Linked DNA regions of Homo sapiens. The protein of the gene in region 1 binds, or shares a complex with, the protein of each later gene. Each region holds a gene or a part of one and is shown in the gene's direction. Other genes may lie near its edges.

Region 1 (8,152 bases):
CCACTTTAACTTAGTATTTTCAGTGTTTTACTGCTACATTTTGTAACCACTCTAATATTTACATATCATCTGTACTATTATTTACTTAAAACTTTTACTTAATGTTTTAAAGGAAATTTAATATCACTGCTCTAAATAAAGAGACACTAAATCACTCAATAAATATTTACAAAGTGCCTAATACATACTAGGCAGCGGGGATATAGCAGTGAAAAAGAGACTAAAAAATATCCCCACCCTCATGGAGCTAATGTTTTAGTAGGGGTGACAGACAATAAACAAGATAAAAGGACGGGCAAGGTGGCTCACACCTGTAATGCCAGCACTTTGGGAGGCCGAGGTGGGCAGATCACTTGAGGTCAGGAGTTCGAGACCAGCCTGGCCAACATGGTGAAACCCCGTCTCTACTAAAAATACAAGTTAGCGGGGCTTGGTGGCTGATGCCTGTAATCCCAGCTACTCGGGAAGCTGAGGCAGGAGAATCACTTGAACCCTGGAGGTGGAGGTTGCAGTGAGCAGAGATTGTGCCATTGCACTCCAGCCTGGGCAACAAGAGAGAAACTCCTTCTCAAAAGAAAAATAATAAAGTAAAATAAACAAGATAAGTAAAATATATAGTTAGAGACTGATCAGTACTGAAGGGAAAACGGGGTGTCTTAGTCCATTCTGTGCTGCTGTAACAGAATAGCTGAGACTGGGTAATTTCTAAAGAACAGAAATTTATTCTCTTATAATTCTGGAGGCTGGGAAGTCCAAGATCAAGGCACCAGCGTCTGATGAGGGCCTTCTTGCTGTCCTCACATGGTGGAAGTCAGAAGGGCCAATGGGACAAATTCTGTGTCCTCACATGGCATGTGTAGAGAGAGAACCCACTCCTCCAATCCCTTTCTATAATGGCATTAATCCATTCTTGAGGGTAGAGCCCTCATGATCTAAACACCTCCCATTAGGACTCACATCCCAACATTATTGTATTGGGGATTAAGTTTCCAATGCATGAATTTTGGGGGATACAGTCAAACCATAGCAGGGGATATCAAGTGTGTGAGTCATTAAAATTGTTGTTAAATAGTTAAAATTTTAGATAGGGCGGCCAGGGAAGACCTCATCGAGACAGTGACTTTTAAGTAAAGACCTGAAAGGGACAAGCCATGTGGAAATCCAAGAGAAACACAATTCAGGTAGTGGAACAAACAAGGCAAAGCACTGAGGACCGAGTGTGTCTGGGATGCTTAAGGAACAATAGGGAGGTCATGGGCAGAAGCAAGAAGACTAGAGAGCTAATGCAAAAATCCAAGCAAGAGATGATGGTGGCTTAAACCAGAATGATGAGAAATGGTCAGATTCTAGAAATATGAATGTTAAGTCAACATTTGCTGATGGGCCATTTAGCTGATGGGCCATTACAAAGTGTAAGGGTTAGGGGAGGAGATCAAGGAAAACCCCCAAATTTTGACCTGACCAAGCAACTGGAAGGATGGCGCCCAATACATTTCTTTTTTCTTTCTTTTTCTTTCAATGAACCATGTGTACAGTTTTTCATATTTCTTCTTTTTCTCCCCACCCCCAGATTTGCATTTCTGTCACTTGCACCACAACCTCCCCACTCAATGAAAGAAATTTAGAAAGCACTGGTATTCAAAAGAACAGACGTAAAACTGCTTGAGGTTTTGCTCATCTAAAGCCTGTGTGTTCTTTGGAGGCTATGACTTTTGAGGGCAAGTCATAAAAGCTAAAGAGGCCCCTGCCCTGTTCACCAAAACACTTGTTCTAAGTTCTAAAACACTGTAGTTCTATGATTCTGAAATCTTGAAAGGATTACAATGAAAAAAATACTCTGTTTTCAAGAATCCAGCAGACACTTTTCAGAATACTAAATTTTGTATATTGTAAATATACCAAATATACTGTGAATATTATCAGTATAATGCAATTCTGTTCAGCATAATACTGGTACATTGATTGGTTGGCTGGGTGCCAAGGAACACAGCTTTCTCAGGGAACAGAAATACTCCTGGTTCTTAGGATTTAAGCTATTAACACATATCTATGCTTGAAAACCACATGCCACTTTTGTTAAATGAATTGATGCAGTTCAGCATCATAAGCTCAAACATTCACTAATTTCACCTTTTTCTGATTTATTCACTTGTTTATTAGTTCAAGGAGAGGACAGTTTAAATAGAACAATATATACACAATGATAGTTTCATGATGAGCCAAGACATTAAGTAAGACAAACAAGGCAATCTGATTTTATGTTAAACATTGGCCTGTTACTGTATTATTAAAATAATAGTGGTATTTGAGTTTGGAGCCAGTATTGTGGTCTCTGTACAAAAATAATGCCTTTCTTTGGCATCAATAAATCAGTATGCATCTATCTTAATTATATCAGCATAAAAAATAGCTTACTCTCCTTGGCAGTAAATAACATTGCCTTCAATTAGCCAAATTATATTTCTGTCTCAAACTACATCCAGTACCATATATTCCATGTCATCAGAGAAATTCTAAATTATCACTGCAGATTGTGTTTATTTTTACATTGGACTGTATCACAAACTGAACATTTAAAATATGAAAAAGGAAAAAACCTTCATATAACTGCCTCTCAGTGTGCCTCCTCTCTAAAGCTTCTAGGCTGCTTTCTCCACTGGGCTGCAGACCTTCCTGTCTAGTAGCTCTTGGACACCATGTGTCCCAAACTGAACTCATCCCTTCCCTCCAGCTGCCCCTATTCCTGTGTTCTGTGTATCTATTCATGACATGTCCATCCACCTGGTCAGCCACGTTCAAAACTTGAATCTTTTGACTACTCACTATACTTCACTTCCTATATCCAATTGGTTGCCAAATACTGCCCACTGAACAGCTTCCAAGCATCTAATCTCTCTCTTCTTTATCTACTGCTGGAATTCTCTTCCTGAAGCCCAGATTTATGTTATTATTTGCCTTACATTTTCCTCCCATTTTCTATGGAATGGCCTAACTCCTTAGAATGGTACCAAGATTTTCCACAGTTTGGCCATTCCTTTCCACCCCACTGCACCTTGTTTTCATTGTCCTCAGAATTTCATTTATAAAGGTGACTGGGTGATGACAATCAATGAGTTAGTGGCCAATGCCTTTGAAAATTTTATTATAGTTCTCAAGAGAAGGGGCTGTGCCTACGGCCACACGAGAAAGTATTAGGGTCAATGAGGAGGTAGAGAGAGCGAGGAGAAAGCCCAGAGCCTTTATTGCCGTGGGAAGGAATGGGCGAAGCAGGGAAGGGAAGTCTGAACAAGCTTAGGATTGAATAATTTGAATAATGTTGGCAAGCTCTGGGATATAGAGGTGAATTTTAGTTGTCTGGTACTTGGCCATGGGGTGGTTTATTACAGTGACTTGGGGCAGGGAAAATATTGGTGTGTGAGATGGATAAAGATGGTGTGGGGATATAGGCTTGGGTTGGTTGGTTTGTAAATGAAAGGGGTGTTCACAAGCAAGTTGTTTGCTATCTCTAGGAATTAGCTAACTCTGAAAGGGGCAATTCCTCCCCAGGTCCCCAAGGCCCCAAGATGTCAAAGCATCATAAAATACAGAAAACAGAAACTAAAATCCATGGTTAATACACACCTCCCTTCACACACACCCTTTACTCCCGGCTCCAGTAGCCCCAGAAATGCTCTAGACGAAGTAAGTTCTGTAGTGCATCTCTCAACAATATGCCGCCACCCATAGCCCTGGCTGAGGAGAGCCACCAAACCTGGTACTATGCGACCATGGTCCTTCCCCTGGTCACTGGATAGTGATCGCACCCAACACAGGCACCCCCATCTACAGGGTGGCTGGAGATCTATGACCATTGTGGCGTACCTGGACCAATCAATAAACTGGACCAATTGGATTTCCATTTTTAGGGATTTAAATTCAGAGCCACAAAAGGAGATTGTCAGTTGATGATGAGCTAAGACACCCTGAAGTATACTCACAACCTTAGCAAGCCATGTGCAGTCTAGTGCTCCACCCCTCTACCCACCCCGTCCAACCCCCACCAAAATACTAACAAAATACAACACACTAGTTCATCATCTAGACCATAATAACTCGCTGGGGATAGTGCTGGAAGTTTTTGTTTGTTTAACATTTCTTTCAAATACTAAGATTAACGGAGTTGCATAGTGAAAAAAACTGTAGGAAAGGGTCGGACTTAGGCCTGGAGTGAAGGGCACAAGATGCTTTTATTTTAAACCCCTAAAAGTGTTGCAAAGTGTTTTTAATTTCATATAAATAGTTAAGGATCACATGAACACAATCCAGTACAAATGGGTCCAGGAGCTTCAACGAGCGTTCCAGCTTCTTCGTAACGTTCCCACACCGTGCAGCAAGCGGAGGGAAGAGAACTTCCGGCGCCCCCACCTACCGCTCCCCAGCCGTGTCCCGCTGCTCTAAATCTGCAGACTTGATCGATTGCTTCTGCCTGGGCGGTACCGCCCGAATTGACTGCTCCTGTCTGATGCGTCCCCGGGCGCGGGAAACGAGTTTCAATCCACTTTCCTGACCCCAACCATCCTGCCCAGTCTCCGCTTCCCCGTCTTGTACACCCCTAACTCCTGAGGCTCCTCCGAATCACGCGAGTGGAAGCGGAGAAGCTCAAGTGGCCGCCATGTCAGAGGCTTATTTCCGAGTGGAGTCGGGTGCGCTGGGGCCTGAGGAGAACTTTCTTTCTTTGGACGACATCCTGATGTCCCACGAGAAGCTGCCGGTGCGCACGGAGACCGCCATGCCTCGCCTTGGCGCTTTCTTCCTGGAGCGGAGCGCAGGCGCCGAGACTGACAACGCGGTCCCACAGGTGAGCCTTTGGGTGCGGGGTCCTGCCCGGAAAGACTGCAGCTCCCGGCGGGCCCCTCGGCCCTGGGACGCCGCATCGGGGCGCGCTGCCCTTTGGGATTTGTAGTTTTCGAGGAGCCAGGGCCGAAGGCGCTAACGACTTCTCGGAAACTCCGCGGGGGTCCCTTCGCGCTCGGGGTGGTCTCCAGACTTCTTGTTCGCCATCTGTGGTGAAACTACATTTATCCTAGGTCGCCAGGCAGCCTCCAACATTGATTTCTTTTTTGAAACTGTCCAAATTAGTGTCTTCCCCCTACCCCATGCAACGTGTGTTGAATGCTTAAAGATTGGCTCCAGCTGAATACTTAAGAATTAGAGTTCTGATCATGTTTGCCTTAAAACAGCTTTGGGTTCTGTAAGAGCATGTGATAAGTAGGAACCCCAAGTTGCTAAATTCATTCCTCCATAATGATGACAGGATCAGTAAGCCCTACTGAGGCTTACTTAGTGGCAGCATGGTTGGGTGTGGGGAGTAAGCTTTTCCCTTTAATCCTTCAGCAACCAGAAAGGCTGGGTCACTTGGCCAGGGCTTCAGTTAGTGGTGAGCTGGGATTCGGAACCCAAGGCCATATGGCTTCAAATATAAAATTGTCCCAGGAACATGGCTTGTAATGATTAATTTGGATATCCTGTTTCACCTAAGTTTTGTATAGAACGATGTTTATTGTTTGGTCTGTTTGTTTCAAGTTAATTTTTATCAAAGTAATACATAACCAACGTTTTAAAAGTCAAATAGGCCGGATGCGGTGGCTCACGCCTGTAATCCCAGCACTTTGGGAGGCTGAGGCGGGCGGATCACGAGGTCAAGAGATCCAGACCATCCTGGCCAACATGGTGAAACCCCATCTCTACTAGAAAGCTGGGTGTGGTGGCCGGCGCCTGTAATCTCAGCTACTCTGGAGGCTGAGGCAGGAGAATTTCTTGAACCCAGGAGGCAGAGGTTGCAGTGAGCCGAGACTGTGCCACTGCACTCCAGCCTGGCGACAGAGTGAGACTCCATCTCAAAAAAAAAAAAAAAAAAAGTCAAATAGTACCAAAAGATTTATAAGAAAAAAAATAGCAGGTCCTGCCTTCCTTTTCCCACTTCCCCCTCCAAGTCCACAGGGCTCATGTACCTTTTTTAGTGGTGTCTTCAAGATTCATCTTCATATTTCTAAATAATATTCTTAAACTTACCTTGTTGGGTTGTTTTTTTTAATGTAGACATTATCTGTTGACTTCATCCTAGCAGATGAGGATTTCGTTCCCATACACACTGGTAAACATGGCGCTATGCTGCCCATACTTAATTCATATTTCCTTAGTTTTTAGTTAATGCCCTTTTTCTATTCTAGGATTCCACCTAGGATACCACACTGCATTTAGTAGACATGTTTCCTTAGCCTTCTCTTGGTTGTGACAATTAATCAGACCTCCTTGTTCTAATGACCTCGACGGTTTTGTGGAGTGGTGGTCAGGTATTTTGTAAAATGTTCCTCAGTTGGAAATCTTTGGTTTGGGGGTAGTTTTGTTTTTGGTTTTGTTTTTTTGTTTGTTTTTTTGACACGGAGTTACCCTGTCATCTAGGCCAGAGTGCAGTGGCATAATCTCAGCTCACTGCAGCCTCCTCCACCTCCTGGGTTCAAGCAATTCTGCCTCAGCCTCCCAAGTAGCTGAGATTACAGGCGCCCACCACCACACCCAGCCAATTTTTGTATTTTTAGTAGAGATGAGGTTTCACCAGGTTGGCCAGGCTGGTCTGGAACTCCTGACTTCAAGTGATCCACCCAACTCAGCCTCCCAAAGTACTGGGATTACAGGCGTAAGCCACCTCGCCCAGCCTTCTTTGTTTTTGTTTTTTATTCTTTTTTTCTCAGCATTAGACTTGATTATCAGCTTTAGGGAGGAAGACCACAGAGGTAAAGTGCCATTTTCATCACATATTAAGGGTGCCTACTATCAACAGGACTTTGTACTGTTCATTTGAACCTTGGCAGAGGTAATGTTCATTAGGTTTCTCCACCTTTTCATACTGTACTCTTTGGATGGAAGTCATTATCACTGTCACACTGAAGGAGTAGGGAGTTATGTTCCACTTCTTTGAGTGCAGAGTGTCTACATTAAATCTTTAGAATCCTTCTGCATGGGAGATTTGTGTAGGAAGGTTTGTATGACATTTAATTTCATTTATAGGATTATTCAGACTTGATTTCTTCTTGTGTTAGTTTTGGTATATTTGGTTTTTAACTAAAACTTTGACCATTTTATCTAATTTTTTTTTTTTTTTTTTGAGACAGGGTTTTGCTCTGTTGCCCAGGCTGGAGTGCAGTGGTGTGATATGGCTCACTGCAGCCTTGACCTCCCAGGCTCCAGAGATCCTCCCACCTCAGCCACCTATGTGGCTGGTATTGCAGGTACATGCCACCATGTCCAGCTAATTTTTGTATTTTTTTTTTGTCTAAATTTTCTTTTTTTTTTTTTTCTATTTGTACATTTGAAATTCTTCTGTAATATTTGTATATATATATATATATTTTTTTTTTAATTGATCATTCTTGGGTGTTTCTCGCAAAGGGGGATTTGGCAGGGTCACAGGACAATAGTGGAGGGAAGGTCAAGCAGATAAACAAGTGAACAAAGGTCTCTGGTTTTCCTAGGCAGAGGACCCTGCGGCCTTCCGCAGTGTTTGTGTCCCTGGGTACTTGAGATTAGGGAGTGGTGATGACTCTTAACGAGCATGCTGCCTTCAAGCATCTGTTTAACAAAGCACATCTTGCACCACCCTTAATCCATTCAACCCCTGAGTGGACACAGCATATGTTTCAGAGAGCACAGGGTTGGGGGTAAGGTCACAGATCAACAGGATCCCAAGGCAGAAGAATTTTTCTTAGTACAGAACAAAATGAAAAGTCTCCCACGTCTACTTGTTTCTACACAGACACAGCAACCATCCGATTTCTCAATCTTTTCCCCACCTTTCCCCCCTTTCTATTCCACAAAGCCGCCATTGTCATCCTGGCCCGTTCTCAATGAGCTGTTGAGTACACCTCCCAGACGGGGTGGTGGCCGGGCAGAGGGGCTCCTCACTTCCCAGTAGGGGCGGCCGGGCAGAGGTGCCCCTCACCTCCCGGACGGGGCGGCTGGCTGGGCGGGGGGCTGGCCCCCCCACCTCCCTCCCGGACAGGGCGGCTGGCTGGGCAGAGGGGCTCCTCACTTTCCAGTAGGGGCGGCCGGGCAGAGGCGCCCCTCACCTCCCGGACGGGGCGGCTGGCCGGGCGGGGGGCTGACTCCCCCACCT
Region 2 (7,646 bases), on another chromosome or scaffold:
AATACAAAAATTAGCCAGACATGGTGGTGCATGCCTGTAGTCCCAGCTACTCGGGAGTCTGAAGCGATAGAATCACTTGAACCCCGGAGGCAGAGGTGCAGTGAGCCGAGATGGCACCACTGCTCTCCAGCCTGGGCAACAGTGAGATTCCATCTCAAACAAACAAAAAAAAACTATGTATCATCTCCTTTAAGATGAACATTTTTTTTTCACATTTTAATGTTCCTGAAAGTGGGACTTGTATTACTATCAATGACAGGTTATGGTTTACTTGGCAGTGTTTTTCATGTAGAAAAATGATGAATCTTAAAACTGATAGCTTCTTGGGTTTCATGAAGTAAGTTATCTTAAATGGAAATACTTTAAATGAATTACATACTTCCTGCTGCTTTGAAAGAATATATTGTACTGTAGACTTTTACTTCTAAGCCTCAGGTCAGTTTCTATTAATGAAGTATCAGCTCTGTTGACTCTGGGTGTAGTCTTTGGAGGCAAGCAGACTTGGTTTTTGAATCTTGGTTTTGCTGATTACTGGCTGCATAACCTTGGTCAAGTTCCTTAGCCAACCAAAAGCTGTTTCCTCATCTGTAAAATGGGAACCATATGTTAAGAAATTTGAATAAATATGATTTAACTTACTTTGGTATCGCCAGGCACGGTGGCTCATGCCTGTGATCCCAGCACTTTGGGAGGCCGAGGCAGGCAGATCACCTGAGGTTGGGAGTTCAAGACCAGCCTGACCAACGTGGAGAAACCCCGTCTCTATTAAAAATACAAAATTAGTCAGGCGTGGTGGCAAATGCCTGTAATCCCAGCTACTCGGGAGGCTGAGGCAGGAGAATTACTTGAATCCCAGAGGCAGAGGTTGCAGTGAGCCAAGATCATGCTGTTGCACTCCAGCCTGGGCAACAAGAGTGAAACTCTGCCTCAAAAATTAAAAATAAATAAATAAAAAACTTACTTTGGTATCACTTCATTATAGAAGGAAAATAAAGTGTGAGGTCAAAATCTTTTTCCCTTCTAATAGAAAGCAAAGAATATGCCAGTATACATCAAGAAGGCACTTTCGTATAAATTATGAAATTTAACCCAATTGAAAATATGCAGAAATAGATAGTTCAGCATACCTAAATTTGAAAACAGCACGTGCATGATTCTGTAGGGTAATACTTTGGGGACATGACATGTTGTCTTTTTATACTTTGCTAATCTGACATGCCTTTATTATATTTAACACTGAGATATGAATACAAATACATCTTCATATTTGTTTTTACAGGAAGTTATTCCAACTTTTGACATGGCTGTCAATGAAATCTTCTTTGACCGTTACCCTGACTCAATCTTAGAACATCAGATTCAAGTAAGACCATTCAACGCATTGAAGACTAAGAATATGAGAAACCTGAATCCAGAAGGTAATGTATTTTTCATAGGATTACTTTTGTTGAAGGAAAATGCCTTACATGAAAATAGCCTTGTTTTCATTGAGAAATTATGAAAGAAGTAATTGGCGGTGGTAGTCAAGGTGACGGATTATAAATTGACAATAATATAGATTCAGTTATCCTATATACTTATGAACCCCCTATACTTTTTAAATTTAATTGAAGTTTCTGATATAAGAGATGTGACTATTGGCCGGGCACAGTGGCTCACGCCTATAATCCCAGCACTTCAGGAGGCCGAGGCAGGCGGATCACCTGAGGTCAGGAGTTTGAGACCAGCCTGGCCAACATGGCAAAACTCCTTTACTAAAAATAGAAAAATTACCAGGGCATGGTGGCACACGCCTGTAGTCCCGGCTACTCTCGGGAGGCTGAGGCAGGAGAAACGCTTGAACCCGGGAGGCGGAGGTTGCACTGAGCAGAGGCTGTGCCATTGCACTCCAGCCTGGGTGACAGAATGAGACCCTGTCTCAAAAAAAAAAAAAAATTAGATTTTAAAGATTTGAGGATCACTTGAGGCCAGGAGTTTGAGACCAGCTTGAGTGACATAAGAGACTCCATCTCTTTTTAAGAAGAAATTAGCAAGGCACAGTGGCTCACACATGTAATCCTAGCACTCTGGGAGGCTGAGGTGACGGGCTTACTTGAGCCTGGCAGGTTGAGGCTTCAGTGAGCAGTGATTGCACCACTGTACTCCAGTCTGGGCAACAGGTTAAGACCCCATCTCAACAACAACAAAATTGTAGAGGTCTCATGAATCAGTGGCAGGATAGGGTGATCTTCACGGCTAGCAGTGGCTAAATACAGGCCAGAACAGGGTAGCTTGTCTGAAACCAGCAGGGGAAATTAGTTGCGGGCAGTGGGACCTTCAAAGGGAAAAAGTTGTCTGTCAGGAAAGGTTCAAATAATAGAGGAAACGAGCAAGAGTGAAAGATCAGAGCATCTAAGGGGTTCTCCTGTGTGGATAATAATGACTTTAAAGTATAGAGGACTTTTTCTCTACCAGGTGCTCTTACTAGGCTTGAAGTACATTGGCACGTTCAGTCCTTGGCTCTGGGATAGGTGCTGATACCACCCCATTCTATAGGGGACACAAAATGTACACAGAAAGGCTAGGGTCAGGACTCAGTCCAGGCTGTCTGGCTTTTTTCCTGACACAGCAGGGTGTCATACAGGAGGCCAGGTGAGTGAGGCAGGAGGCAGGGAGCAGGGTAGGCAGACAAGAAGGGAACGAGGGATGCCTGCTGGACAGGGGCCCTGAGGAAGAAGGGCCAGAGGTTCGCTGGGCTTGAGAGTCTCCTGAAGACATAGCCTGCAGATGACTGGACACAGAAAGGTCGCCCTAGGCAGAGTCTTGGGCACCTAGCTCCTGTCTGTGATCCCAGCTATTCCTGGACCTCCACACCTCAGGTCAGGTGTGCTGACCTCTCTTCTCCCCTCACAGACATTGACCAGCTCATCACCATCAGCGGCATGGTGATCAGGACATCCCAGCTGATTCCCGAGATGCAGGAGGCCTTCTTCCAGTGCCAAGTGTGTGCCCACACGACCCGGGTGGAGATGGACCGCGGCCGCATTGCAGAGCCCAGTGTGTGCGGGCGCTGCCACACCACCCACAGCATGGCACTCATCCACAACCGCTCCCTCTTCTCTGACAAGCAGATGGTGCGCAGCCACCCTGGCCCCCCAGGCTATGCTTTGCCTGTCTGTATCCTCAAAAGGCCAACTATAACTTGTCCCTCGGACCCTGAGCCTCACTTCCCGAATGGCATCCATCCCTCTCTGGTCTTGTGGGTTTCGTTAGTGGCCTATGGGCTAAATATGCAGAGCACGCAAAGCCCCTGCTTCAGGGCACTGTCCCTGTGCTGTTGCCAGTGGCACTGTCTGTTGTTAGAGACACTGTATTTTCATGGCCTAAAATGCTTCAAACGTTTGAGATGAGAATACTTGGTTAAATGTCATTCTGCTTTTTCCATTGGTAAAGGATTGAGGAATTTTTCTGAAATTTTTTCACAAATTTTACTGTCTAAGAAGTTTGGTCTTTTTTCTCTATATTCATGAAATTTTAAGATGAAGTTATTAAAATGACAGAAAAAAGTGAGGGGAAGGTAGAAAATTGCTTATTTACCGTGATTGTGACTGTAAAGATGTGGGAGGACAGGATTTGAGTTTTTCTGTGACTGCGTGTGCATGGTTTCTTTAATGTTGCATGGGATGGAGAGCTGGAGACAGAAAGGCAGGCACCCTGCTCCGCAGGAGCACATGGCCTCCTATTCTCAGAATCATGCAGGCCCCCAAAGTGGCTTAGAGAAAAGCCCAGCATCCTTAGGCCTCTCAGAGGGTACCTGGTTTGGAAAGGCCTTCCTCGACCCTGCTTTATGAAAAGCATCTCAGCTTCCCCCACCGCAGCTCCCTACATTCCTTCCCCTGTTTTGTTGCTGTCTGTTGCAGCAACTTCTTTAGAAGAAGTAATTTCTAAGGAAATAATGAGAAACATGGACAATCATTTATGTGGGGATATGCACTGCAGCCTTATATGGCAAAAGCAGTACAAAGACATGCAGATTTTGTCCCCCTGCCCTCTCTTTGTGGCCCACATGTTCTCTGTTTGCTGACCTTCAGATCAAGCTTCAGGAGTCTCCGGAAGACATGCCTGCAGGGCAGACACCACACACAGTTATCCTGTTTGCTCACAATGATCTCGTTGACAAGGTCCAGCCTGGGGACAGAGTGAATGTTACAGGTAAGAGTGTAGGTTTGCACCAGCACTTGAGCATGTCTGGCTTGCTTTCAATGCTGTGCTTTAGTGAGTCATTGGACTTGGTCACAGGTCCAGTTCTACCTCCAGTTGTCACTGCTTGTCTTTGAGACTGTGGGGTATATCCCTGCTTTATCTGCCACCTTTTTAACTGAGTACCATGGCCCAGCAGTATGAAATTGTTCAGTTCTTCCCAAACTTGAATGTTGGAGCTCATGGTTCGTGTGGTCACTCGCCTCTTGATACCTCAGTATCCTGGAGCTGTGTGTGTCTCAAGTCAGTACTGTTGGCATCATGAGAGAGCAGCCTCAGACAGGCTTGTATGGGTAAAGTTTTGAGTTATGCCATCAGCTCAGAGAAGTATTACTCACCAATGCTGGAGTTTTAAGTAATTTTTACTTAATTTCCCAAATGTATAGCCAAGGGTTAACATTTGTTTGTTACAGAGAAAAATGAGTCAGTGACTTGTTTCCATGTGTAGAAGCTGAGGTTCAGGGATGCATAGACAGCAGTAGCTCAGATGCCACGGTAAATCAGAACCCAGGACCCAGGTCTCCTTCTCTTGCTGCCACAAGAGTGCTCTTTGCACAGCACCATATGAGTGTGGCAGTCCTCCTTTTGATGCTGTAGAGTCACAATGGATTTTGGTTGGGGGCAAGGGAGTGTTGATGGCAGCACGGTTCTTCATTGATGGGCAAGGTGGCGACGGTCGCGGAGTGCCTGAATCTGCTCCTGAGCGGAGGGCCTGGGGCACACCACGCATCGGCTCTTGTCTTCAGTGAGGCAGTGCTCACCCTGTTTCTTCCCCAGTGTGAAGTCCCGCAGTTATCACTGGCAATCTTCCGTCGTAAAAGTACTTGAAGTCATGGAGAATTTGAAAGAATGCGTAGTTTTTAGTGAGTGACGTGCGCATTTCCAGTCCTGCTACCCTGAAACCTTTGATAAAGTATTTAGTCCAATATTTTTGTTTCCTCACCTACAAAGTGGAGTTAATGTGATGATACATGTGTGAGAGTGTTTGGGGCCAAGGGGCTGTGGAAAGTGCTGTGTAGATGTGAAATAAGTATCAATGCTGCTCTGTGAGATAAATCATTCCGGGCCACTTTAAACATAATCTTCCATCCCTAGCCTATATTGGAGTGAAGAATAGTGTGTATTCTAAGAATGTGTGTAAACTGGTTTGTTGTGTTAAACAAGAATTACACTGACCCACTGAATAAACAAGGACAGTGCTCTGTGCCATTGCGTTGAGATAGCTGTAACGGGGAAAGGCCAGGCTTTCTCCAAAAGCTGCAGGAATCAGCCTGGAGTTAAAGCCTTCTGGTTTGAAATCCAGAAAAGACGAACATCAGATCAGACCTCTGTATGTGAGGAGCCTGGCTTCCAGAAGAATGCATGATTTGCATGCTTTTGTCGGGGGTGGTGGGTAGGTTGGGGGGACCTAGTCTAGTTTTAATGACTGGAGGATTTTAGCATTTTGTTGCAGTCAAGTAAGTGCTAGGCAGATTCTGTACACTCAACTTAGGGAAGTAAAAATACTGCTTATTAAAAACAACCACGAACCCAGCATTGAGCTAGAAGCACAGCAGCTCCATTTCACCCTCAGGGTGACTGTGCCCGTGGGCATGCTCACGTAGCTACAGTTGCCCTGGAGCACTGCTGACTAGTGGGCCCAGGTGAACACGTCCTCGGGTCTATCATTTGCAGAAACCTGGGTTCTTTCTCTTTTGTTTTGTTTTGTTTTGTTTTGTTTCATTTTGTTTTGTTTTGTTTTTGAGACGGAGTTTTGCTCTCGTCACCCAGGCTGGAGTCCAATGGCACCATCTTGGCTCACCGCAACCTCCGCCTCCCAGGTTCAAGCCATTCTCCTGCCTCAGCCTCCCGAGTAGCTGGGATTACAGGCATGTGCCACCACGCCCGGCTAATTTTTGTATTTTTAGTAGAGACAGGGTTCTCCTTGTTGATTAGGGTGGTCTCGAACTCCCAACCTCAGGTGATCCGCCTGCCTCAGCCTCCCAAAGTGCTAGGATTACAGACATGAGCCACCTTGGTTCTTTCGAGCTTGTCCGTTTCCTGCTGCTATTTCCCTGCTTGCTCATAGCAAGCGGGAGCTTTGCAATGTGGGCCTGAGTCCTGGGCTTGGGAGGGTCATTTAAGAGACGGTGGAGCTCACCCTTTCCAGGGCCAGCCCGACGTGGTGCCTCGCTCTGAAGTGCACCTGTTGCCTACGCTGGTTGCTGAGCCACTCGGAGGAAGATATGGGAAGGTAAAAGTGCATCTCCTGGTTGTGCCCTCAGGCATCTATCGAGCTGTGCCTATTCGAGTCAATCCAAGAGTGAGTAATGTGAAGTCTGTCTACAAAACCCACATTGATGTCATTCATTATCGGAAAACGGATGCAAAACGTCTGCATGGCCTTGATGAAGAAGCAGAACAGAAACTTTTTTCAGAGAAACGTGTGGAATTGCTTAAGGAACTTTCCAGGAAACCAGACATTTATGAGAGGCTTGCTTCAGCCTTGGCTCCAAGCATTTATGAACATGAAGATATAAAGAAGGTAACAGTGGATTTTAAACTAGGGGTTGGGATTTACAATTCTTTGGGATCAAATAGTATAAACATCCACTCCGCCACTCGAGCCATCCGCCATAAAGGACAGAGTTGTGGCCTGTTAGAGCAAGTGCTGGCAACCTGACTTGCCATTGGTTGAGAAGAATCATAGCATTGTCTATCCTCATCTCTGGTCTAAACTTAGGTTTCTAAACAGAAGAGGCCACACAGTGTCAGAATAGGGACTTGCATGGCCACCATTCTGGTGTAATGATAGGTGCTGATGAACTGGTCAGTGATAACTTAAAGCATATCAAGCACTTTCACGAGCCTTTTTATACCTTCCTGTGATTTCTTAATTGTAGTTCTTTATAAGAGAGAAAAGTACCTCTAAAGTTTAAACTACATCTCAGTTAACTGTGCAGAAAATGAATGTTTAGACATGTCTCTGATTATTTAGGGAATTTTGCTTCAGCTCTTTGGCGGGACAAGGAAGGATTTTAGTCACACTGGAAGGGGCAAATTTCGGGCTGAGATCAACATCTTGCTGTGTGGCGACCCTGGTACCAGCAAGTCCCAGCTGCTGCAGTACGTGTACAACCTCGTCCCCAGGGGCCAGTACACGTCTGGGAAGGGCTCCAGTGCAGTTGGCCTCACTGCGTACGTAATGAAAGACCCTGAGACAAGGCAGCTGGTCCTGCAGACAGGTGCTCTTGTCCTGAGTGACAACGGCATCTGCTGTATCGATGAGTTCGACAAGATGAATGAAAGTACAAGATCGGTATTGCATGAAGTCATGGAACAGCAGACTCTGTCCATTGCAAAGGTGAGTCGCCTTCTCCACCGTGAACATGGACGTGTTTAAAATATGTGGACCCTTGAAAGACAGG

The links. The genes of interacting proteins can lie anywhere in the genome.
Region 2: GINS3 (region 1) and MCM4 share a complex: the UniProt entries of both Homo sapiens proteins name them as parts of the CMG helicase complex.

Annotation. Positions count from the first base shown.
Region 1 is NC_000016.10:58,387,951-58,396,102, forward strand, and holds the start of GINS3 (DNA replication complex GINS protein PSF3), read left to right. Parts: upstream 1-4,520; 5' UTR 4,521-4,651; coding exon 4,652-4,837; intron 4,838-7,151; coding exon of another isoform or gene 7,152-7,268; intron 7,269-8,152. UniProt on the Homo sapiens protein: Required for correct functioning of the GINS complex, a complex that plays an essential role in the initiation of DNA replication, and progression of DNA replication forks.
Region 2 is NC_000008.11:47,963,295-47,970,940, forward strand, and holds part of MCM4 (DNA replication licensing factor MCM4), read left to right. Parts: intron 1-1,279; coding exon 1,280-1,418; intron 1,419-2,892; coding exon 2,893-3,113; intron 3,114-4,070; coding exon 4,071-4,191; intron 4,192-6,503; coding exon 6,504-6,763; intron 6,764-7,216; coding exon 7,217-7,582; intron 7,583-7,646. UniProt on the Homo sapiens protein: Acts as a component of the MCM2-7 complex (MCM complex) which is the replicative helicase essential for 'once per cell cycle' DNA replication initiation and elongation in eukaryotic cells.